Regions from separate parts of the Homo sapiens genome. Here region 2 is linked to region 1. The links come from fine-mapping of genetic effects on gene expression. A gene starts in region 1. The other region holds a variant in brackets. All regions are shown on one strand. Distances are from middle to middle. Region 1 holds the start of RELA (RELA proto-oncogene, NF-kB subunit). Region 2 has its middle 24 kb from the start of AP5B1.

What was found. PIP is the estimated chance that this variant, and not a neighbour inherited with it, causes the effect.
Region 2: its variant is the best candidate, but not a certain one, in a credible set for the expression of RELA in liver (GTEx, PIP 0.53).

What each region holds. Positions count from the first base shown.
Region 1 is chr11:65,656,940-65,669,084 of GRCh38, forward strand. It overlaps RELA (RELA proto-oncogene, NF-kB subunit), which reads right to left and starts at 5,977. Exons shown (of 11, transcript NM_021975.4): 1 at 5,887-5,977; 2 at 5,240-5,266; 3 at 4,998-5,149; 4 at 4,748-4,896; 5 at 3,185-3,276; 6 at 2,727-2,858; 7 at 1,779-1,883; 8 at 1,348-1,560. The coding sequence starts at 5,893. It overlaps RELA-DT (RELA divergent transcript), which reads left to right and starts at 6,067. Exons shown (of 4, transcript NR_183625.1): 1 at 6,067-6,209; 2 at 8,507-8,604; 3 at 9,192-9,278. RefSeq lists silencers at 5,664-5,723, 5,784-6,193 and an enhancer at 6,284-6,483.
Region 2 is chr11:65,750,943-65,763,087 of GRCh38, forward strand. No RefSeq gene overlaps it. Among named protein-coding and RNA genes, the nearest start is that of AP5B1, 24 kb to the right of the region's middle. The variant C/T (reference allele first, on the strand shown) is at 6,849.

The DNA of each region.
Region 1 (12,145 bases):
CACTTGAACCCGGGAGGTGGAGGTTGCAGTGAGCCGAGATTGCACCACTGCACTCCAGCCTGGGCGACAAGAGTGAGACTCTGTCTCAAACAAACAAACAAAACCAAACCAGAAAATCTCAAGTGACGGTGGTCCAGGGACGATATGGTGATGTAACAATACTGGAAGTGAGGTCAGGACAGTCTAAATGTAGAGGGAAGGGCTAATTTAGAGGTCAGGGAAGGACTGGCATGAGCCACTTGCATTAAAACCTTGGGCATTCCAAGCAGAGGCAACAGCTAGACACAGGTCCTGAGGTGAGACTGAGCTTGGTCTGTAAGACGCAAAACGGCTGCAGGGCTGAAGGGTAACTGAGGACAGTGGTGGAGATGTGATCTTGCTCTGCTATTCCTTCTGTAAGGTTTGTGCCGCATCTTCTCTTCCTGGACTACAGCAACATTTCCAGAATGGCCTCCCTGCTTTGAGTCTGTCTGTCTCTGATCTTCTACACGTGGCCTCCTGAGTCAACTTCCAAATCTGCTCCTGTCACCTCTCTGCTTAGAGGCCTTCAGCTTAACCAGGCCCTCCAATCTCTGAGCCTGCTCACTGCCCAACATCAGCTCAAACCACGAAGGTGGCCCTGAATAGGCCGTGCAGTTGCCAACACCCCTTCCCTTCCAGGTGCTGGGCCACCTGCCTGGAGAACACACTTCTGTGTCTTTCTCCAGCTTCAATGCCACCTTCTCCATGCAGCTGTCTCCAGCTCCCCGGAGGCCACTGTGCCCCCGTGCTTCTCTGCGCACACCTCCATTTCACATGTCATTCCGTGACTTAAGGATCTGTTTTGCACATTTGTCTTCCTCAAGTGACTGAGACTCTGAAGGGCAGGGAGCATGTCTTACTCATTTTTTGTATTCACAATACCTGGCACAGGCCCTGGTACCAAGTGGACACTCAAACCTCGACCAAAATGTGGCTGGGCTGTATGGTAGTGACAAGACAACCAGTGTGGCAAAAGGATCCTGAAGCCAGATGGCCTGGGTTCCAACGCTGACTCTGCTAGACTCTGCTACTTACTAGCCACGTGAACCCAGGCAAGTTGGACACTATCTCCTACTTCAAAAGGGTCATGAGATTAAAATCAGGTAATCCAGTGAAGTGCCTGGAATAGGGGCAGATGTGTAGTACTAGCTCAATGTCTGAGGTATCATTATTATTAAATGAGGCAAGAAATGGATTCCAGTTTCTTGGATCCCAAGCTCTGACTCCAGCTTCTGGCCCTCAACCACAGCCCCAGACATGCAGTCTTGGCCTCTCTCTCACGGCACAGAGCCCAGCTGCCCTGATGCTGCCACCCCAGCTGTGTACCTGTATCTGGCAGGTACTGGAATTCCATGGGCTCACTGAGCTCCCGGTCGGAAGGCCGCCGCAGCTGCATGGAGACACGCACAGGAGCCTGCAGGCTGGGGTCTGCGTAGGGAGGGGTCCGGAACACAATGGCCACTTGTCGGTGCACATCAGCTTGCGAAAAGGAGCCTCGGGCCTCCCAGCCTGGTCCCGTGAAATACACCTCAATGTCCTCTGCAGGAGATGCGGTGGCAGTGTGGGTCAGTGTGTCTAACCCTCCATGGTCTCCCCCTCAACTTCTGATGCTTGTCTTCTGATACATCACCCTTCGGCCCACCTGAGGCCCCCGAGGCACAGGAGGAAGTATCCAAAGCCAGTTACCTGACACTCCACTTCTCTGCTCAGCTTCACCCCTTGCTCCCAAGAGCCCACCCCTGCCTCCTGATGTATACCTTTCTGCACCTTGTCACACAGTAGGAAGATCTCATCCCCACCGAGGCAGCTGCCAGAGTTTCGGTTCACTCGGCAGATCTTGAGCTCGGCAGTGTTGGGGGCACCTGAGGCAGTGAAAACAAGGGAGGATGACCTGAGCCACGAGAGGTCCCCAGGGTGGCCTGCAGGAGATGCAACTTCCCTGCCCAGCCCAGAGTCAAGGTTGCCCAGAGCTTGCCACCTACACCTTTGTAGCCAAAGTCAGACCTTCTTATTAGCTCCTCACCCCAACCGATTCAACAAGTATTTGCCTACTGTGCACTCAACACTGATCTAAGCAAGAATACGACCACACACAAAACCCAAACCTCTCTGCTCTCCCGGAGCTTATAGTCCAGTGGGTGCCAATCTGATCACACTCTTTCTCCACCTGACCAAAGCAATCTTTAAGGCCAGTCCATACCCACCTTGGCAATGAGCCCTTCCCTCCTGACCCCCAGTTTATCCTGGTTTCCCATCCTTGGGGCTCCAGATTCGTTTTATTTCCATTCATCCTGCTGGTTACTTAACTAAAGACTGCAGCTGATCAGTCAGCCCAATTCATCTGTGGGCTTCCATCACTGAATCATCATTCTCGAACACTATCTTGTTCCTGGGAGTTCATTTCCTAGAGTCATTATCGCAGTTGTGGGCACACCACCTTCTCATCACACAATACTGAAAATGCCCATCTCCCATCAGACTCTCTGCTAGACTTCCTGCCAGGCCAGAGCTACACCTCAAGGACAGCTCTGGGTCTTCTTTGCCCTCTCTCCCCAGCCAACAAAGAGCTGGGCAGAGAAGAGTAGACAAATACGCAAGATGATTGAATGAAGCCAGAGCGCCTCTTGCAGGCCACACTCACCCCAACCCCCTTCCTCCTATTCAGGCCCACCCTCTCCCCTTCCTGCGTCTCCCTCGCTACTCACGATTGTCAAAGATGGGATGAGAAAGGACAGGCGGCAGGCGGAGGGGCCTGCCTGATGGGTCCCGCACTGTCACCTGGAAGCAGAGCCGCACAGCATTCAGGTCGTAGTCCCCACGCTGCTCTTCTATAGGAACTGCCAAGAAAACAGGCGATCAGGAGAGCAGGGGAAGTGGGGATATAGGTGCTATCAGTGGGGGCAGGGAGCTCTGCGCTGGGAGGGCCGCTGGTGCGTGTGTGAAACACAAGTCCTAGAGGAGGCAGAACCCAGCACTGACTCCACTGTGGCCTGAATGTCATGTCCCCTCCTGGGACTCAGTTTCCCAGTGGTAAAGTGGGAGAGTACTGAATGGGCACCAAGATTCCAGCTTTACTGTGTCTTGGCCAGTGAGGGAGATGCAGGAAAGGCGGGCTGGGGAGGGTGACAGAGGGTGCGGGTGTGGCAGGCAGGTTTGCCCTCACCTTGGAAGGGGTTGTTGTTGGTCTGGATGCGCTGACTGATAGCCTGCTCCAGGTCCCGCTTCTTCACACACTGGATTCCCAGGTTCTGGAAACTGAGCGCCCCCAGTCGTCTGTCCCACTGTCTCTCACAGAGCCCAGACCTTCCTGCCTTGCCCAGCCTGCTCCTTCCTACTCTGCCCACCCCTAGATCATCGCTCCATGCCTAACCCTCTCCAGTGGCTTCCTACTGTGCTGCAACGAACCCTGTCCCTTCACTCAGCTGACAAGCACCTCCGTGCCCCTGCCCCTGCCAGCCTCCCTGTGGGCTCCCTGCTTACAGCCACCGGGGCTCCTTTTCCACTCTCTAAACACAGGACACTCATTCCCACCTCAAGGCCTTTGCACTTGTTTGGTCGGCTTGGAATGTTCTTTTCCTACTTCTCTCCTCCTTCTCACCATTCAAGTCTTAGCTGAGGGAGGCCTTCCCTGACCTCCCAATCTAAAGTCATCACACACCAGCTCCCCTAACTCCCCCACCCCAGGTTATCCTTCTATCCTATGACCTCGTTTTATTTTCAGGACTGAAACTGTTACTCTGACAGCACCTTGTTTATTTATCTGTGTATTTATTTATTTTTAAGAGACACAGTGTCGGGCCGGGTGCGGTGGCTCAAGCCTGTAATCCCAGCACTTTGGGAGGCCAAGACAGGCAGATCACAAGGTCAGGAGATTGAGACCATCCTGGCTAACACGGTGAAACCCTGTCTCTACTAAAAAATACAAAAAATTAGCCAGGCGTGGTGGCAGGCACCTGTAGTCCCAGCTATTCGGGAAGCTGAGGCAGGAGAATGGCATGAACCCGGAAGGTGGAGGTTGCAGTGAGCTGAGATCGCGCCACTGCACTCCAGTCTGGGGACAGAGCAAGACTCTTTCTTAAAAAAAAAAAAAAAAAAAAAAAGACAAGGTATCGCCCTGCCACCCAAGTGCAGTGGTGCAATCATAGCTTGCCGCAGCAGTGACCTCCTGGGCTCAGGCGATCCTCCCACCTCAGCCTCCCTGGGACTATAGGCGCATGCCACCATACCCAGCTAATTTCTTATTTTTTGTAGACATGGGGTCTCACTATGTTGCCTTGGCTAGTCTTGAATTCCTAGGCTCAAGAGATCTTCCTGCCTTGGCCTCCCGAAGTGCTAGGATTATAAGCATGAGCCACTATGCCCGGCCTGTATATTTTTTTACAGCCTGTCTCTGTCAACTGCAATGTCAACTCCAGGGGAGAGTGCTGGTTCAATGGTTTTCTTCCTCAAACAAGAGACGTGACTCTGAGGGACTTGTCCTTCCAGCTACAGGGGTCAGGAATTCAGAAGTGATTAGGGACCCATCCGTATCCCCTGGAACTCATCTGCTAGAGTAAACGTACAAATAGATAATTTCAAGACAAAGGCAGTTTACTTGCAGAGCTGAGTCAGGGCAAGGAGTGAGGAATTCTGCCCTGGGTCCAGAAAGGAGTAACACTGTAGCGGCTACTTCATAGCCCGCCTCCTGTCCCCTCATGCTGGGCCTCCTAGCCTGCAGGGACCTCACCTGTGGATGCAGCGGTCCGGGCAGAGCTCAGCCTCATAGAAGCCATCCCGGCAGTCCTTTCCTACAAGCTCGTGGGGGTGAGGCCGGTGAGGAGGGTCCTTGGTGACCAGGGAGATGCGCACTGTCCCTGGTCCTGTGTAGCCATTGATCTGTCCAAAGTACAGAGGCCCAGACATCCAAACCTGACTCCCAAACACAGAGGGCTGGGGTTCCACAGTCCCTTCCCCGCACACCCTGGCGCAGTGCTGACCTTGATGGTGGGGTGGGTCTTGGTGGTATCTGTGCTCCTCTCGCCTGGGATGCTGCCCGCGGAGCGCCCCTCGCACTTGTAGCGGAAGCGCATGCCCCGCTGCTTGGGCTGCTCAATGATCTCCACATAGGGGCCAGAGGCCTGGGCTGGCTCTGCCAGGGGACACCGCAGCCCCATTAGGCGGCTGCCCCCACTGCCCTACCCCAGGGAGCACCTCCCCGACCGCCGCGGGGGCCACTTACCTGCCGGGAAGATGAGGGGGAACAGTTCTGAAAGGGGAGGGAGATCAGGGTCAGCACACACCCAATGCCCATTCTCACAAGGAGGAATCTGCTCTCCACGGAGAGGAGAAGCCAGGCTCCCTCCCAGGGGAACTGAGTCAGGACCTGCTCCCTAGAACCTGCGGTGAAACTAAGGGGTGGAGGAAAGGAACCAGAAACACCTGCTTCTTGAGGGAAAACGGGGTAAGGAATCCTTCTTCTCCAGAGGGAAGCTGAATCAGGGCCTGTTGTACTTTCTTAAGGAAAATTGAGGGAGGGCACGCCCCACCTCCCTCCAGAGAGGAAACTGAATCAGATGCGTTCTCCCCTAATAGGGAAACGAAGCCAGAGCTGCCCCCATGGACGGTGTGGAGGGAAACTGAGTCAAGGTTCCCTCTGCTCCCCCACCCAGGGAGGATGCTGAGTCAAGGGCCACCCCCTCCACCCAGAGGGGAAACTGAGTCAGACCCCTCCCCGCCTGCCCCGCCCCGCGCCACCATCCGGCAGGCCGACCGCTCCCTGCGCAGCGCCCGTCGGCGCAGGAAGGGGCGGAAAGCGGCGCGGGGGCTCCCGCCACAGCCGCGGCGGCCCCGGCGATGCCACCCCGCGGGGTCAGAGGGCGACCTCACCGTCCATGGCCGGGGTCCCGGGGGCGGGGCCGGGGTCGCAGCTGGGCCCGCGGCGTGCACTACAGACGAGCCATTCGCCAGAGGCGGAAATGCGCCGCGCGGCCCGCCGTCGCGTCACTGCCCGGAATCCGGCCGCGCCTGCGCGCTGCCCCGCCGCCGCCCGGCGCAGGGGCCGGGAGCAAGTGCACGCCGCGCGGAGGACGAAGAGGCTGCACGCACAGCCGCTGCCGGGGGTCGGGGCCAAGTGCGCGCCTCGCCGAGGACGAAGAGGCTGGCGTGCCCGGTGGCTCGGCTAGCTCCCGGGTCCCGGCCCCGCCTGGAGGGTGGGTCCGCCGATTACTCACTTTGTTTTTAGGGGATTTCAGGGCCCCCTCCCGCCGATCGGCGGAGTTTGGTGATGTCACTCTGGGCCGGGTCTGGAGCAAAGCCAGGGCTACTGGGCTGCGGCCGCCCGCCCCGCGCAGGGAAAAGCCCGACCGGGCCTTCTGCTCCGCAGAGGCCGGGTGGTTGAACTCCGCGCGGGTTTCCTAACCGCTAAAGGTGCCTTTCGGTGGTGGCTGTCTCAGAAGCACGTTAAAATGTCCTACCCACCCCAATCTAGATGCGGCTGTGGGGGAATGGGAGCGGCCGGACCTCCCAGCCTGACAGTGCATCAAGAGCTTTGCGGAGCCTACAGCCCGGATGGGACGACTGAGGCCCTCCCGCTGGCGAGCTGGCCGAGGGCTCGTCCCTCTCCAGCTAAAGCGCCAGCTTACGATACAGCCAAACTGCCGGCTCTCATCGGCTGTGGGAGCAGGAGGCCCCCAGGGGTAAATCCCGGAGCCTCGTCTCTGAAGCCTGGCGCTTGTGTCTCAGAAGGTGCGGGACCCACAGGGACACTTGAATCAGCAGGCTCACGACCCCCCACCCCCCTGCCCCCGCCTGTGTTTGCCCTGGACCTCCAGCTAGGGCTGACCACTAATTCTGTCATGTGACCCCACAGTGCAGGTAGCTCCCCCAAGACCAAGCCCAAGGCGCGTCCGTGTGGAGGCTGGGGCTGACGCACCCCCACCCCAGGCCTCATCCCCAAAGGAGGATGCTCCACTGCAGGGGGCGGAGTCTTCTCCAGATGGAGAAAGACTTTTTTATTTTCTCTGAATTCGTCTTAAATTAGGAAATCATGTGGGAATTGGAAAAGATTGGAAATTCTGACTTGTTTCCCAGGCTCTGAAGAAACAGGAAGAGAAAAGTGAAAATAGAGTTAGCACCCCGCCCACTCATTTCAGTTTCTCCAGTGGCTGGCCCTGATTAGAAAAGTGTTTACTTTTGGCAGGGGGCGGGGGAGGCCGACTTCAGGTGACAGAATGGATTAATTAAAATCTTTGGTTAATGATATACAATTATCATTGAACCTTGCATGGATCCTCTTCTTAAAATTCATGTATATTTATAACTTTTAAATTAATACGATAAACACCCATGTACCCATTGCAAAACTCAAGGGGCCACCACCATCCAGAATTCTGTATTGTATTGTATTGTATTGTATTGTATTGTATTGTATTGTATTGTATTTATTTATTTATTTATTTTTTGAGACACGGTCTGTCTCTGTCGCCCAGGCTGGAGTGCAGTGGCACAATCTCTGCTCACTGCAGCCTCTACCTCCTGGGCTCAAGCAATCCTCCCACTTCAGCCTCTTGCATAGCTGGGACTACGGGAGCACACCACCATGCCCGGCTAAGTTTTTGTATTTTTTGTAAAGAAGTGGTTTAACCTTGTTGTCCAGGCTAGTCTTGAACTCCTGAGCTCAACTTTCCTCCCCGCTTGGCCTCACAAAGTGCTGGGATTACAGGCGTGAGCCACCACGCTGGGCCAGAATTCTGTATTTTTTAAATTAATTAATTAATTAATTTATTGTAAATAGAGATGGGTCTCACTGTGTTGCCCAGGCTGGTCTCAAACTCCTGGGCTCAAGCGATCCTCCCACCTCAGCCTCCCAAAGTGGGATTACAGGCATGAGCCACCACACCTGGCCCAGAATTCTGTATTTTAAAGAAAAAAAAAGTTATATCTGCATGCCTACACAATATATCTTTTGGTTTTCCTTAGTTTTGAACTTTTTTTTTTTTTTTTTTGAGACAAAGTCTCACTCTGTCGCGCAGGCTGGAATGCAGTGGCATTCTGCTTACTGCAACCTCTGCCTCCTAGGTTCAAGCGATTCTCCTGCCTCAGCCTCCTGAGTAGCTGGGATTAAAGGGGCCAACCACCACGCCCAGCTAATTTTTGTATTTTTTTAGTAGAGACGGGGTTTCACCATGTTGGCCAGGCTGGTCTCGAACTCCTGACCTCAGGTGATTCGCCAGCCTCTGCCTCCCAAAGTGCTGAGATTACAGGTGTGAGCCACCGCACCCAGCCAGTTTTGAACTTTTATGAAGAGGGCATCATATGATTTGTTGTCCTTTGTTACTTGCTTTTTTCACTCAACCTGTTACTATGATTCATGTTTCACAGTTAATTCACTTTTTCACTGCTGTATACTATTTTGTTGTGTAAATATACCACAGTTTGTTTATTCATCCTGAAGATAGGCATTTTTATTTTTATTTTTTTGAGATGGAGTTCCTCTCTTGTGGCCCAGGCTGGAGTGCAATAGCACCATCTCGGCTCACTGCAACCTCTGCCTCCCAGGTTCAAGTGATTCTCCTGCCTTAGCCTCCTGAGTAGCTAGGATTACAGGTATGCATCACCATGCCCGGCTAATTTTGTATTTTTTTTTTCTTTTGAGACAGAGTTTCGCTCTTGTTGTGTGCAATGGCACAATCTCGGCTCACAGCAACCTCTGCCTCCCAGGTTCAAGTGATTCTCCTGCCTCAGCCACCTGAGTAGCTGGGATTACAGGTGCCTGCCACCATGCCTGGCTAACTTTTTGTATTTTTAGTAGAGACGGGGTTTCACCATGTTGGCCAGGCTGGTCTCAAACTCCTGACCTTAGGTGATCCACCTGCCTCAGCCTCTGAAAATGTTGGGATTACAGGCATGAACCACTGCATCTGACTAATTTTGTACTTTTAGTAGAGACAGGGTTTCACCATGTTGGCCAGGGTGGTCTCTAACTCCTGACCTCAGGTGATCTGCCCGTCTCGGCCTCCTAAAGTGCTATTACAGGCGTGAGCTACCGTGCCCAGCCATGGGCATTTGGACTTCTAATTTTTTGCTGCCATAAGCTTTAGAGCACTGAGTAATATATAAAAACAGCAATCATGTAGTTTTTAAAACTTAGTCTGGGGTTAAAGAAGTATGTAAACAACTATGTTTTCTTAAAGATTTATAGGAGCATTGTGACTGGACCAAGGACAAAGAAGTTCCCAACCTCCTCAGACCCTCGCTGCTGCCCAGATGTCTGCCATGGGGTACTTCTTGACCACACCCTCCTTCTCTTCCCTGCCCTTAACATAGAAAGAGCCTAAGATTGTACTGACTTAAAATGGTACTTTAGAACGCTAGTACACCGTCCTCTCAGTCTTGCTGGCTTTCAGAATAAATCAGTAAACCTACTTTTTCTCCCACCAACGCCCCTATCAGTTGGGATCCTCTTACCTCGGCCTCCCAGGTAGCTGGGACTATAAGCACTCACCACCACACACAGCTAATTAAAAAGAAAACAATTTTTTGAGGCAGGGTCTCACTCTGTCGCCATGCTGGAATGCTGTGGCATGACTCGTTGCTCACTGCAGCCTCAAACTCCTGGGCTCAAGCAATCCTCCCACCTTAGCCTCCCAAGTAGCTAGGACTAACAGCGTGCACCACCACACTCAGCTAATTTCTTTTTTTTAATTTTTAGTAGACACAAGATCTTGCTATGTTGCCAAGGCTGGTCTCGAACCTCTGAGCTCAGGCGATCCTTCTGTCTCAGCCTCCCAAAGTGTTAGGATTACAGGCATGAACTACCAAACCCGGCTGAGTTTTTTAAAATCTTAATGAATGCATGGATTTAAATATATTAGCTGTGTTTTAATCAAGTATAGTTATTGAAATTCAAATTATTCGTCTTTGGTTAGGGAGAACTTCTTCAAGTTGGTTGTTCTTCAGTCCTTTTGACACAATTCCAATATATGAGTCTTGGTGGCTCATACCTGTAATCCCAGCACTTTGGAAGGCTGAATGGGGAAGACTGATTGAGGCCAGGAGTTTAAGACCAGCCTGGTCAACATGGCAAGATCCCTATGTCTATTAAAAAAATAATTTTAAAAAAGCAATTACAGTAGCCTGTGATAGCTTCTTTGCTGTTTGGTATGAAAAGATATTTCTTTTCTTTTTCCTTTTTTTTTTTTGAGATGGAGTTTCGCTCTTACTGCCCAGGCTGGAGTGCAATGGTGCAATCTCGGCTCACTGCAACCTCTGCCTCCCGGGTGCAAGCAATTCTCCTGCCTCAGCCTCCCAAGTAGCTGGGATTATGGGAGTGTGCCACCACGCCCAGCTAATTTTTGTATTTTTAGTAGAGATGGGGTTTCCATATTGGTCAGGTTGGTCTCGAACTCCTGACCTCAGGTGATCCACCTGCCTTGGCCTCCCACAGTGCTGGGATTACAGGCATGAGCCACAGCGCCTGGCCTGAAAAGATATTTCTAGACTCATCTAGTAAATTTTCTGCCCCAGATCTGGAATCAGACAGCTTTCCAAGGAGTCCTGATTTCTCTTAGTAGGAAATGATATTTAAAGACTACAGCTTGAGTACTTCGGATACTTATTGCTACTGAGTCAGTCATTGTAGATGTTTTCGGTGAATAGTTAGTACTTTTTTTTTTTTTTTTTTTTTTTGAGACAGAGTTTCACTCTTGTTGCCCAGGCTGGAGTGCAATGGCATGATCTTGGCTCACTGCAACCTCCGCCTCCCGGGTTCAAGTGATTCTCCTGCCTCAGCCTCCCGAGTTGCTGGGATTACAGGCATGCGCTACCACGCCCGGCTAATTTTGTATTGTTAGTAAAGACAGGGTTTCTCCATGTTGGTCAGGCTGGTCTCCAACTCCTGACCTCAAGTGACCTGCCCGCCTCGGCCTCCCAAAGTGTTGGAATTACAGGCGTGAGCCACCATGCCCAGCCAGTAATTTTTTAAAAAATGGGAGTCTTGCTCTGTCATCCAGGCTGGATTGCAGTGGTGGTGTGATCATAGCCCATTGCAGGCTCGAACTCCTAGGCTCAAGTGATTCTCCCTCCTCAGGTCCCCCAGTAGCTGGGACTACAGGCACACACCACCATGCTCAGCTAATTTTTTATTTTTTAGTAGAGAAGAGGTCTCACTATGTTGCCCAGGCTCATCTTGTACTCCTGGGCTCTAGCACTCCTCTTGCCTCAGCTTCCCAAAGTGTTGGAATTACAGGCATGAGCCATTGTGCCCAGCCTAGCTGGTAATTTTTTTTTTTGAGATGGAGTCTTGCTCATTCGCCAGGCTGGAGTGCAGTGGCGCGATCTCGGCTCACTGCAACCTCTGCCTCCCAGGTTCAAGCAATTCCCCTGCCTCAGCCTGCTGAGTAGCTGGGACTACAGGCACGCGCCACCACACCCTGCTAATTTTTTTGTATTTTAGTAGAGACGGGGTTTCACCATGTTGGCCAGGATGGTCTCGATCTCCTGTCCTGACCTTGTCATCTGCCTGCCTTGGCCTCCCAAAGTGCTGGAATTACAGGCGTGAGCTACCGCACCTGGCTGTAATTTTTTTTAAATACGAAATGCATCAGGAGTTCATACTAATGTTTCATATTCAAATTTAGAATTATAGGGTTTTTAAATTTTATTTATTTATTATTATTATTTTTTTTTGAGATGGAGTCTTGCTCTGTTGCCCAGGCTCACTGTAACCTCTGCCTTGTGGGTTCAAGCAGTTCTCTGCCTCAGCCTCCTGAGTAGCTGGAATTACAGGCACCTGCCACAATGCCTGGCTAATTTTTATATTTTTAGTAGAGACGGGGTTTCACCATCTTGGCCAGGCTGGTTTTACACTCCTGACCTCGTGATCCACGTGCCTCAGCCTCCCAAAGTGCAGGGATTACGGGTGTGAGCCACCGCGCCCAGCTAGAATTACAGGGTTTTAACTTAACCTTAGTCACTTTACATGTTTCTCCCATGTCAAAAATCTTGATTTTCTTTTGAGGGAATAGAAAAGTCCACTCTTAAATTAAGTCCATATGGAGTCTCAAGGGACCCAAATAACCAAAACAATCTTAAAAAAAAGAAACAAAGGTGGAGGACTCATACTTCCTGATTTCAAAACTTACTACAA
Region 2 (12,145 bases), 94 kb after region 1:
ATTATGGGCATAAGCCACCATGCTTTGTATATTTTCCATAACAGTACTTTTTCAGAAATGTCTTTTGCAAATATTTTTCTCCCAGTCTGTGGATTGTCTTCTCATTTTCTTGACATTGTATTTTACAGAGCAGGTTTTTAATTTTAATGAAGTCCAACTTATCAATTATTTCTTTTGTGGATCAGGCCTTTGGTGTTATATCTAAAAAGTATTTGCCATACCCAAGGTCATCTAGATTTGTTCCTATGTTATCTTCTATGAGTTTTACAGTTTTGTATTTTACATTTAGGTCTATGATCCATTTCAAGTTAATTTTTGTGGAGGGTTTAAGGTTTGTGTCTAGATTCTTTTTTTCTTTTTCTTTCTTTCTTTTTTTTTTTTGCATGTGATGCCCAGTTGTCCCAGCACCATTTGTTGCACAGACTATCTTTGCTCTATTTGTATTGCCTTTGCCCCTTTGTTAATGATCAGGTGGCTATATTTATGTGAGTCTGTTTCTGGGCTCTTTATTCTAGTCCATAGATGGATTTGTCCGCTCTTTTGCCAGTACCACAGTGTCTTGATTACTGTAGCTATATAGTAAGTCCTGAAGTTGAATGGTGTTAGTCCTCTGAGTTTGTTCTCCTTTAATATTGTGATGGCTACTCTGGGTATCTTTGGTGGTGGTGATGTTTGTTTTAAATGTCTCCATATAAACTTCAGAATCAGTTTGTCAATATAAGAAATAACTTGCTGGAATATTGATTGGGATTGCATTGAATCTATAGACCAAGTTAGGAAGAACCGATATCTTAACAATATTGAGTCTTCCTAACCATGAACGTGGAACATTATTTATTTAGTACTTCTTTGTTTTCTTTCATCAGAGTTTCATAGTTTTTAAAAAATATATAAATCTTGTACATATTTTGTTAGATTTGTACTTAAGTATTTCATTCTGGAGGGAGCTGATGTAAATGATACCGTATTGTGTGTGTGTGTTTGTTTTGAGACAGGATCTCAATCTGTCACTGAGGCTGGAGCGCAGTGGTGTGATCATAGCTCACTGAATCCTCAGCCTCCTGGGCTCAAGCAATTCTCCCATCTCAGCCTCCCCCGTAGCTGGAACTACAGGCATATGCCCCATACCCAGCTAATTTTTTTTGGTAGAGATGGGGTCTCATCATGTTGCCCAGGCTGGTCTCAAACTCCTGGGCTCAAGCAATCCTCCTGCCTTGGCCTCCCAAAGTGCTGGGATTACAGGTGTGATCCACTGTGCCCAGCCTGCATTTTTTATATTTTATATTTTTTATTTTTTAGGTACATAGTAGGTGTATATATTTATGGGTTACATGAGATGTTTTGATACAGGCATGCAATGCATAATAATCATATTCAGGTAAATAGGGTATTCATCACTGCAAGCATTGAACCTTTATGTTTCAAACAATCCAATTATACTCTATTAATTGTTTTTAAATGTACAATTAAATTATTTTTTGCTATAGTTACCTTGTTGTGCTAGCAAATAGTAGGTCTTATTTATTCTTTCTAACTATTTTTTTGTACCCATCAACCATCTCCCCTTCCATCACCAGCCCCCACCGCCAACTACCCTTCCTGGTCTCTGGCAACCATCCTTCTCCTATCTCCATGAGTTCAATTGTTTTCATTTTTAGCCCCCACAGATAAGTGAGAACAGGTAATGTTTGTCTTTCTGTGCCTGGCTTATTTCACTTAACATAATGTTCCCCAGTTCCATCCATTTTATTGCAAATGACAGGATCTCGTTCTTTTCTATAGCTGTATGGTACTCCATTGTGTATATGTACCACATTTTCTTAATCCATTTATCTGTTAATGGACATTTAGGTTGCTCCGGAGTCTTAGCTATTGTGAATACTGCTGTAATAAACATGGAAGTGCAGACATCTCTTTGAAATACTGATTTCCTTTTCTGCGGGTATATATCTAGAAGTGGGATTGCTGGATCATATGGTAGCTCTGTTTTTAGTTTTTTGAGGGACCTCCACAATGTTTTCCACAGTGGTTGCACTAATTTACCTTCCCACCAACAGTGTACAAGGGTTGCCTTTTCTCCACATCCTCGCCAGCATGTGTTATTACCTGTCTTTTGAATAAAAGCCATTTTAACTGGGGTAAGGTAATATCTCATTGTAGTTTTGATTTGCTTTTCTCTGATGATCAACTATGTAGAGCACCTTTTCATATGCCTGTTTGCCATTTGTTTGTCTTTTTTTGAGAAATATCTATTCAGATCTCTGGCCCACTTTTAATCAGATTATTAGATTTCTTTTCTAGAGAGTGGTTTGAACTCCTTATGTATTCTGTCAGATGGTGTGATGGTTAATATCGAGTGTCAGCTTGATTGAAGGATACAAAATATTGATCCTGGGTGTGTCTCTGAGGGTGCTGCCAAAAGAGATTAACATTTGAGTCAGTGGGCTGGGGAAAGCAGATCCACCCTTAATCTGGTGGGCACAATCTAATCAGCTGCCATTGAATATAAAGCAGGCAGAAAAACGTGAAAAGGAGAGACAGCCTTCGCCTCCCAGCCTTCATCTTTTTCCTGTGCTGGATGCTTCTTGCCCTCGCACATCGGACTCCAAGTTCTTCAGTTCTGGGACTCAGACTGGCTCTCCTTGCTTCTCAGCTTGCAGAAAGCCTATTGTGGGACCTTGTGATCATGTAATAAACTCCCCTTTATATATAGAGAGAGAAAGAACACTGACTAATACAGATGGGAAGTTTGCAAATATTTTCTCCCATTCTATGGGTTGTCCCTTCACTTTGTTGATTGTTTCTTTTGTTGTGCAGTAGCTGTTTAACTTGACGTAATTCCATTTATACATTTTTGCTTTGGTTGCCTATACCTGTGGGGTATTGCTCAAGAAGTATTTGCCCACTTTGATGTCCTGGAGAGTTTCCCCAGTGTTTTCTTTTGGTAGTTTCATAATTTTCAGTCTTAAATGTTTTTAATTCATTTTGATTTGATTTTTTTGGCAAGAGATAGGGGTCTAGTTTCATTCTTATGCATATGGATATCCAGTTTTCCCAGCACCACTTATTGAAGAGACTGTCCTTTCCTCAATATATATTCTTGGAAACTTTGTCAAAAACGAGTTCACTGTAGATGTATGAATTTATTTCTAGGTTTTTGATTCTGTTCCACTGGTTTATGTATCTGTTTTTATGCCAGTGCCATGCCGTTTGGTTACTATAGCTCTGTAGTATAATTTGAAGTCAGATAATGTGATTCCTCTAGTTCTGTCCTTTTTGCTTAGGATAGCTTTGGCTATTCTGGGTCTTTTGTGATTCCATACATATTTTAGGATTTTTAGGATTTTTTTCTATTTCTGTGAAGAATGTCATTGGTATTTTGACAGGAATTGCATTAAATCTATTGGACATTTTAACAATGTTGATTCTTCCTATCCATGAACATGAAATATCTTTCCATTTTTTGTGTCCTCTTCAATTTCTTTTCTTTTCTTTTTTGAAATAGGGTCTCACTCTGTCACCCAGGCCAGAGTGCAGTGGTGTGATCATGGCTTGCCAAAGCCTTAATTTCTCAGGCTCAAGTGATCCTCCTGCCTCAGCCTCCTGAGTAGTTGGGCCTGCAGGTGCGAACCACCATGCCCAGCTAGTTTTTCTTTTTTGTGTTTTTTGTAGAGTTGAAGTTTCACCACGTTGCCCAGGCTGGTCTCGAACTCCTGGACTCAAGAGATCCACCTACCTTGGCCCCCCAAAGTGCTGGGATTACAGGCTTCAGCCACCATTCCCAGCCTCACTTCAGTTTCTTGCATGAATGTTTTATAGTTTTCATTGTAGAGATCTTTCATTTCTTTGGTTAATTCCTAAGTATTTTATTTTATTTGCAGCTATCCAGCCTGTGTTTTTAATTTCAGATTCCACTTGTTCATTGATGGTATATAGGAAAGCAATTGATAATTTTATATTAATCTTGCATGCTGCAATGTTGCTATAACTGCTCATTAGTCCCAAGGGTTTGTTGTTGCTGATTTTTCCAGATTTTCTACATAGACAATCATGCCATCTTTACCACCTTTCTTCCTTCCCAATCTGTATACTTCTATTTCTTTTTCTTGTCTTAGCATTAGCTAGGACTTCCAGCGTAATATTGAAAGGAGTGGGGAGAGAGGACTTTCTTTCCTTTTTTCTGATCTTAGCAGGAAAGCTTCTAGTTTCTCACTGTTAAGTAAAATATTAGCTATACGGTTTTTGTACCTTTTAAAAATCAAGTTAAGGAAGTTCCCCTTTATTCCTAGTTTACTGAGAGTTTTTTTAAATCACAAATGGGTGCTGAATTTTTTCAAATGCTTTTTCTGCGTGTATTGAATTATCATTTGATATTTCTCTTTTAGACGTGATGGATTACATTAACTGATTGCATACCTGGGATAAATCCCCATTTGGTCATGGCATATAATTATCTTTATGTATCATTGGATTTGATTTGCTAATATTTTGTTGAGGATTCCTGTACCTATGGTTATGAGAGATATGGATCTGTAGAGTTGTTCTGGTAATGTCTTTATCTGGTTTTAGTATTAGATGCTGACCTCATAGAATGAATTAGGAAGTGTTTTCTCTGCTTATATCTTCTGGAAGAGATTTCACAGAACTGGCATAATTTCTTTCTTAAATGTTTGGTAGAATTCACCAGTGAACTCATCAGGCCTGCAGCTTTCTGTTTTGGAAGATTATTAATTATTGATTATTATGGTCTGAATGTTAACAAAATTCATATGTTAAACCTAATTACCAATGTAATAGTATTAACAGGTGGGCTCTTTAGTTTTTAGGAGATGATTAGGTCATAAGGGTGGAATAGAACTAATGCCTTTTTGTTTTTTTTTGAGACAGAGTCTTGCTCTGTCGCCCAGGCTGGAGTGCAGTGGCGCAATCTCAGCTCACTGCAAGCTCCGCCTCCCAGGTTCACGCCATTCTCCCGCCTCAGCCTCCCGAGTAGCTGGGACTACAGGCGCCTGCCACCACGCCCGGCTAGTTTTTTGTATTTTTGGTAGAGACCAGTCTGGGTGACATAGCGATATCCCATCTCTAAAAAAAAAAAAAAAAAAAAAAAAAATCCTCTAAACACTGCTTTTGCTGCATTTCACAAATTTTGATAAGCATATTTTTATTTTCTTTTAGTGCAAAATATTTTTTAATTTCTCTAAGTTTTCTTCTTTGAGTCATGTGTTAGTTATAAGTATGTTGCTTAATCTACAAGTACGGGGATTTTTTTTTTTTTTTTTTTTTTTTTTTTTTTTTTTTTGAGACGGAGTCTCGCTCTGTCGCCCAGGCTGGAATGCAGTGGCGGGATCTCGGCTCACTGCAAGCTCCGTCTCCCGGGTTCACGCCATTCTCCTGCCTCAGCCTCCCAAGTAGCTGGGACTACAGGCGCCCGCCACTACGCCCGGCTAATTTTTTGTATTTTTAGTAGAGACGGGGTTTCACCGTTTTAGCCGGGATGGTCTCGATCTCCTGACCTCGTGATCCGCCCGCCTCGGCCTCCCAAAGTGCTGGGATTACAGGCGTGAGCCACCGCGCCCGGCCAAGTACGGGGATTTTTCAGCCATCTTTCTGTTATTGATTTCTAGTTTAATTCCATTGTGGTCTGAGAGAAGAAATTGCATGGTTTCTATTGTTTTAAATTTGTTAAAGTGTGTTTTATGGCTCAGAATGTGGTCTATCTGGTGAATATTCCATTTGGTCTTGAAAACAATGTGTATTCTGCTGTTGTGGGATGAACTATTCTATAGATGTCAACTGTATTCTTTCTTAAAATTTTTTTTTCTTTTTTTTTTTTTGAGACAGAGTCTTGCTCAGCCACCCAGGCTGGAGTGCAGTGGCGCAATCTCAGCTCACTGCAAGATCCGCCTCCCGGGTTCACGCCATTCTCCTGCTTCAGCTTCCCCAGTAGCTGGGACTACAGGCGCCCGCCACCACGCCCGGCTAATTTGTTTTGTATTTTTAGTAGAGACGGGGTTTCACCATGTTAGGCAGGATGGTCTCGATCTCCTGACCTCGTGATCCACCCACCTCGACCTCCCAAAGTGCTGGGATTACAGGCGTGAGCCACCGCGCCCGGCTAGATGTCAACTGTATTCTGTTAACTGGCAGTGCTGTTGAATTCAACTACATCCTTACTGATATTCTGCCTAGCAGATCTGCCTGTTTCTGTAGAGGAGTGCTCTTTTTCAAGATTGTTTTAGCTATTTAGGACCCCTTGCAATTCCATGTGGATTTTAGGATCAGCATTTCCATTTCTTCATAAAAGACCATTGGGACTGTCATAGGGATTGCATTGCGTTTATAGATTACTTTGGGGATTACTGCCATCTTAACAATACTAAGTCTTTCAATCCATGTACATGAATGTCTTTCCATTATTTATGTCTTCTTTATTTCTTTTAGCATGTTTTTTAATTTTTGGTATACAACTCTTGTATTTCCTCAATTAGATTTATTCCCAAGTATTTTATTCTTTTTGCTGCTATTATAAATGTAATTGTTTTTGTAATTTCCTTTTGGAATTGTTCATTGCTAGCATATATTATAGCGATACAATTCATTTTTGCCTATTGATCTTATATCCGAAAACTTTGCCGAGTTCATTTATTAACTCTACTAGTTTTTTGTGGATTCTTTAGGACTTTTTCATAAAAGATCACGTCATCTTTTAAGAGATATTCTTACTTCTTCCTTTCTGATCTATATGCCTTTTATTTATTTTCCTTACCTAATTACTCTGGCCAGAACTTCCAGGACAGTGTTGAGTAAAAGTGTTAAAAGTGGACATCCAGGCCGGACACGGTGGCTCA[C/T]CCCTGTAATCCCAGCACTTTGGGAGGCCGAGGCAGGTGGATCACGAGGTCAGGAGATCGAGACCATCGTGGCTAACACGGTGAAACCCCGTCTTTACTAAAAATACAAAAAATTATCCAGGTGTGGTGGCGGGCTCCTGTAGTCCCAGCTACTCGGGAGGCTGAGGCAGGAGAATGGTGGGAATCCGGGAGGCGGCTTGCAGTAAGCCGAGATAGCGCCACTGCACTGCAGCCTGGGCGACAGAGCGACACTCCGTCTCAAAAACAAACAAACAAAAACAAAAACAAAAAAGTGGACATCCACTGGGCACGGTGGTTCATGCCTGTAATCCCAGCACTTTGGGAGGCCAAGGTGGGAGGATTGCTTGAGCCCAGGAGTTCTAGACCAGCCTGGGTAACATGGTGAGGCCTCATTTCTTTTTTGTCTTTTTTTTTTTTTTTTTTTGGAGATGGAGTCTCACTCTGTCACCCAGGCTGGAGTGCAGTGGCGTGATCTTGGCTCACTGCAAGCTCTGTCTCCCGGGTTCACGGGCACCACACCCGGCTATTTTTTTGGTATTTTTAGTAGAGACAAGGTTTCACCGTATTAGCCAGGATGGTCTCTATCTCCTGACCTTGTGATCCACCCGCCTCGGCCTCCCAAAGTGCTGGGATTACAGGCATGAGCCATTGCGCCTGGACAGAAGACCTCATTTCTATTAAAAATAAAAAAAAAAAATCAGCCAGGCATGGTGGTGTGTGCCTGTGCCTGTAGTTCCAGCTACTTGAGAGTCTGAGGTAGGAGGATCATTTGAGCCCAGGGAGATCCAGGCTGCAGTGAGTTTTTAATTTAATTTTATTTTTTGAGACAGGATGTTGCTCTGTTGCCCAGGCGACAGAAAGAAAAAAAAAAGACATCCTTGTCTTATTCCTGATCTTAGGCAAAAAGTTCTCAGTCTTTCACCACCGAGTATGAGTTTTTTTTTTTTTTTTTTTGAGACAGAGTCTCGCTCTGTTGCCCAGTCTGGAGTGCAGTGGCTCCATCTCGGCTCACTGCAAGCTCTGCCTCCCGGGTTCACGCCATTCTCCTGCCTCAGCCTCCCAAGTAGCTGGAACTACAGGCGCCCGCCACCACGCCTGGCTAATTGTTTGTGTTTTTTAGTAGAGACGGGGTTTCACCGTGTTAGCCAAGATGGTCTCGATCTCCTGACCTCATGATCCGCCTGACTCAGCCTCCCAAAGTGCTGGGATTACAGGCGTGAGCCATGGCGCCCGGCCGAGATTTTTTTAATAAGTGCCTTTTATCATGTTGAAGAAGCTCTCTTCTATTTCTAATTAGTAAAAATTTTTTATCATGAAAGGGGGTTGGAGTTTATCAAATACTTTTTCTGCATCAGTTGAGATGATCATTGTTTTTTTTTCCTTAAGTTTTAAGAGTTCTTTAGCCCTTGGTCTGTTGTAAATATTTTCTCCCATTTCATCAGTTGTCTTTTTATTCACATGTAGTTGTAAGTACTAATACAGATCTCTTTACCCTTAAACCTGTTTCCCTCAACAATAACATCTTGTAAGACTATGGTATGATATCATAACTAGGATATTGGTATTGATACAGTCAAGATACTGATCATTTCCATGATCACTTCCCTCTCACTCACACCCACTCCTTAACCTCTGGCAATCACTAATCTGTTCTCCACGTCTACGATTTTTGTCATTTTGAGAATGGACTATAAATGGAATCATACAGTTTGTAATATTGTAGAGTTACCTTTTTTTCACTCAACATAATCCCCTGGAGATTCATTCAGGTTGTCATGTGTATCAGTAGTTTGTTCCTTTTTTATTGCTGAGTAGTATTCCATGGTGCAGATGTACCAAAATTTGTTAACCATTCACCCATTGAAGGACATCTGATTTGTTTCCAGTTTTTAGCTATTATGACCAAGGATGCTATGAGCATTCATGTGTGGGTTTTTTGTTAATATGTTTTCATTTCTCTGGGATAAATGCCCAAGAGTGTAATTGGTTGGTTGTATGGTGGTTGCATGTTTAGCTTTATAAAAAACTGCCAAGCTCGGCCAGGCGCCATGGCTCATACCTGTAATCCTAGCACTTTGGGAGGCCAAAGTGGGTGGATCACTTGAGCTCAGGAGTTTGAGTCCAGCCTGGACAACATGGCAAAATCCTGTATCTACTGAAAATACAAAAATTAGCCAGGCATTGTGCTGCATGCCTGTGGCCCAGCTACTTGGAAGGCTGAGGTGGGAGGATCACTTGAGCCTGGGAGGCCGAGGTTGCAGTGAGCTGAGATTGCACCACTGCACTCCAGCCTGGGTGACAGAGTGAGACCCTGACTCTAAAACAAAACAAAAAACCTACAGATCAATTTAGGGAGAATTGAAAATTGCTATGTTACATCTTCAAATACAGGAACACAATATGCCTCTCCATTTATTTAAATCTTTTCTTTCATTAGCACTTTATAATTTTCAATTTTCAGCATATATATCCTACACATATTTTGTTAGGCTTATACCTGAGCGTTTTATTTTCTTTGGAATGATTGTACATTGTTTTGTGTTTTACATTTTGGTTTCCATATGTTCATTGTTAGTATATAAAAATGTGAGTGATTTTTATGTTACTCTTCATCTGCAACTTTGCTGAACTCAATTAGTTCTAAGAGGTTTTCTGTTTTCTTTTTAGTTTGTTTATGGTGATTTTTGCCATGCAATTTAAAAAATATAGTCAAGCTATCATTCTCTTATTTTATTGTCTGTGGATTTTTTTTTTTTTTTGAGACAGGGTTTCCCTCTGTCACCCAGGCTAGAGTGCAGTGGTGTAATCTTGGCTCACTGCAACCTCTGCCTCCTAGGCTCAAGGGATCCTCCCACTTCAGCCTCCTGAGTAGCTGGGACCACAGGCAGAAACCACTACGCTCAGCTGATTTTTGTACTTTTTGTAGAGAAAGTATTTCACTGTATTGCCCAGGCTGGTCACCAACTCCTGGCCTCAAGTGATCTGCCCACCTCAGCCTCCCAAAGTGCTGGGACTACAGGTATGTGCCACTGTGCCTAGTGGATTTTATTTTTTTAACATGAAGTCTTACTCTGTTGGCCAGGCTGAAATGCAGTAGCGTCATTTTAACTCACTGCAACTTTGAACTTCTGGGCTCAAGCAATCCTCATGCCTCTGCCTCCCAAGTAGCTAGGACTACTGACATGTGCCACCATTCCTGAATAACTTTTTAATTTTTTGTAGAGACAGGATCTGGCTTTGTTGCCTGGGCTGGTCTCAGGCAACCTCTTGACCTCAAGTGATCCTCCCACCTCAGCCTCCCAAAGTGCTGGGATTACAGGCGTCAGCCACTGCATCTGACCTATTTGTTTTAAGCAGTCAGAAATTCAGTGGATATATTTTGTATTAATGTCTGACAGAGCTAGTCTTCACCATAGTTATTCTTTTTTTTTTGGTATTTTTCTGGGTATTCTTGCATTTTTTTCTATGTAAATATTAGTTATCAATTACATAATGCCATATAAAAGCTTATTGGTACTTTTATTGGGATTGCATTAAATTTATAAAGTAACTTAAGAAAAGCCAACATCTTTATAATGTTGAGTTCTACCCGTTTATGTAAGTCTATCTTTGTGACTTTCAGGAGTATTTTAAAATTTCCTCATATAAGTTTTGCACATTTCCTGATACTTTTATTTCTAAGTATTCAATCTTCTTCAATACTATATAAACGAATTTTATCATTATGCCCTCTGATTATTGTTTGTTTGTATGAAAGTTATTGATTTTTGTATGTTAGCTTTGTATGCTGTCACTTTACTGAATTTTTTAGTTAATTTTATTTTTGATTTGAGTTTTTCCAGCATTGTTGGCAAATAGAGATAATTTTACTTCCTCTTTACCAATCTTATGCTTTGAACTGATTTATCATGTTGAATTGCAATGGCTAATACCTCTAGACAATGTTGAATAGTAGCAGAGATGGTGAGCATCTTTGTGTTGTTCCTGAGCCAAGTGAAAAATGCTTTTAGTATTTCCCTATTAAGTAAGATGCTGGCTAAAGCTGTGATGTTGGGATATAATAAGAAATTCTGTACCATTTTCTGGCATAGAACTTCTAATCCTTTGGAATTTCCTGAGCTATAGGAGCATGTATTTTCCCCTAAAATCTATTTATTAGGAAGAATGAATTTTCATAATTCTAGTAGCAAATCATACTACAGAAGTATCAGATAGAATTCTCATAGCCTTGATATATTGTCTCAATGTTATAAGAAGTTGACCTCCAAATCAACAATCATAGTCAACTGAAAAATATCATTTGTTGATATCTTTCAGAGGCCAAGACATGATTTTCTGACTTTTTTTTTTTTATCACTCCATTTATAGGAAATTTCTTTTTTCTTTTCTTTTTTTTTTTTATTGATCATTCTTGGGTGTTTCTCGCAGAGGGGATTTGGCAGGGTCATAGGACAATAGTGGAGGGAAGGTCAGCAGATAAACAAGTGAACAAAGGTCTCTGGTTTTCCTAGGCAGAGGACCCTGTGGCCTTCCGCAGTGTTTGTGTCCCTGGGTACTTGAGATTAGGGAGTGGTGATGACTCTTAACGAGCATGCTGCCTTCGACCATCTGTTTAACAAAGCACATCTTGCACCGCCCTTAATCCATTTAACCCTGAGTGGACACAGCACATGTTTCAGAGAGCACAGGGTTGGGGGTAAGGTCATAGATCAACAGGATCCCAAGGCAGAAGAATTTTTCTTAGTACAGAACAAAATGAAAAGTCTCCCATGTCTACTTCTTTCTACACAGACACAGAAACCATCCGATTTCTCAATCTTTTCCCCACCTTTCCCCCTTTTCTATTCCACAAAACCGCCATTGTCATCATGGCCCGTTCTCAGTGAGCTGTTGGGTACACCTTCCAGACGGGGTGGTGGCCGGGCAGAGGGGCTCCTCACTTCCCAGAAGGGGTGGCCGGGCAGAGGCGCCCCCACCTCCCGGACGGGGCGGCTGGCCGGGCGGGGGCTGACCCCCCACCTCCCTCCCGGACGGGGCGGCTGCCGGGCGGAGACGCTCCTCACTTCCCAGATCGGGTGGCTGCCGGGCGGAGGGGCTCCTCACTTCTCAGACGGGGCGGCTGCTGGGGGGAGGGGCTCCTCACTTCTCAGACGGGGCGGCCGGGCAGAGACGCTCCTCACCTCCCAGACAGGGTCACGGCCGGGCAGAGGCGCTCCTCACATCCCAGACAGGGCGGCCGGGCAGAGGCGCTCCTCAAGTCCCAGACAGGGCGGCGG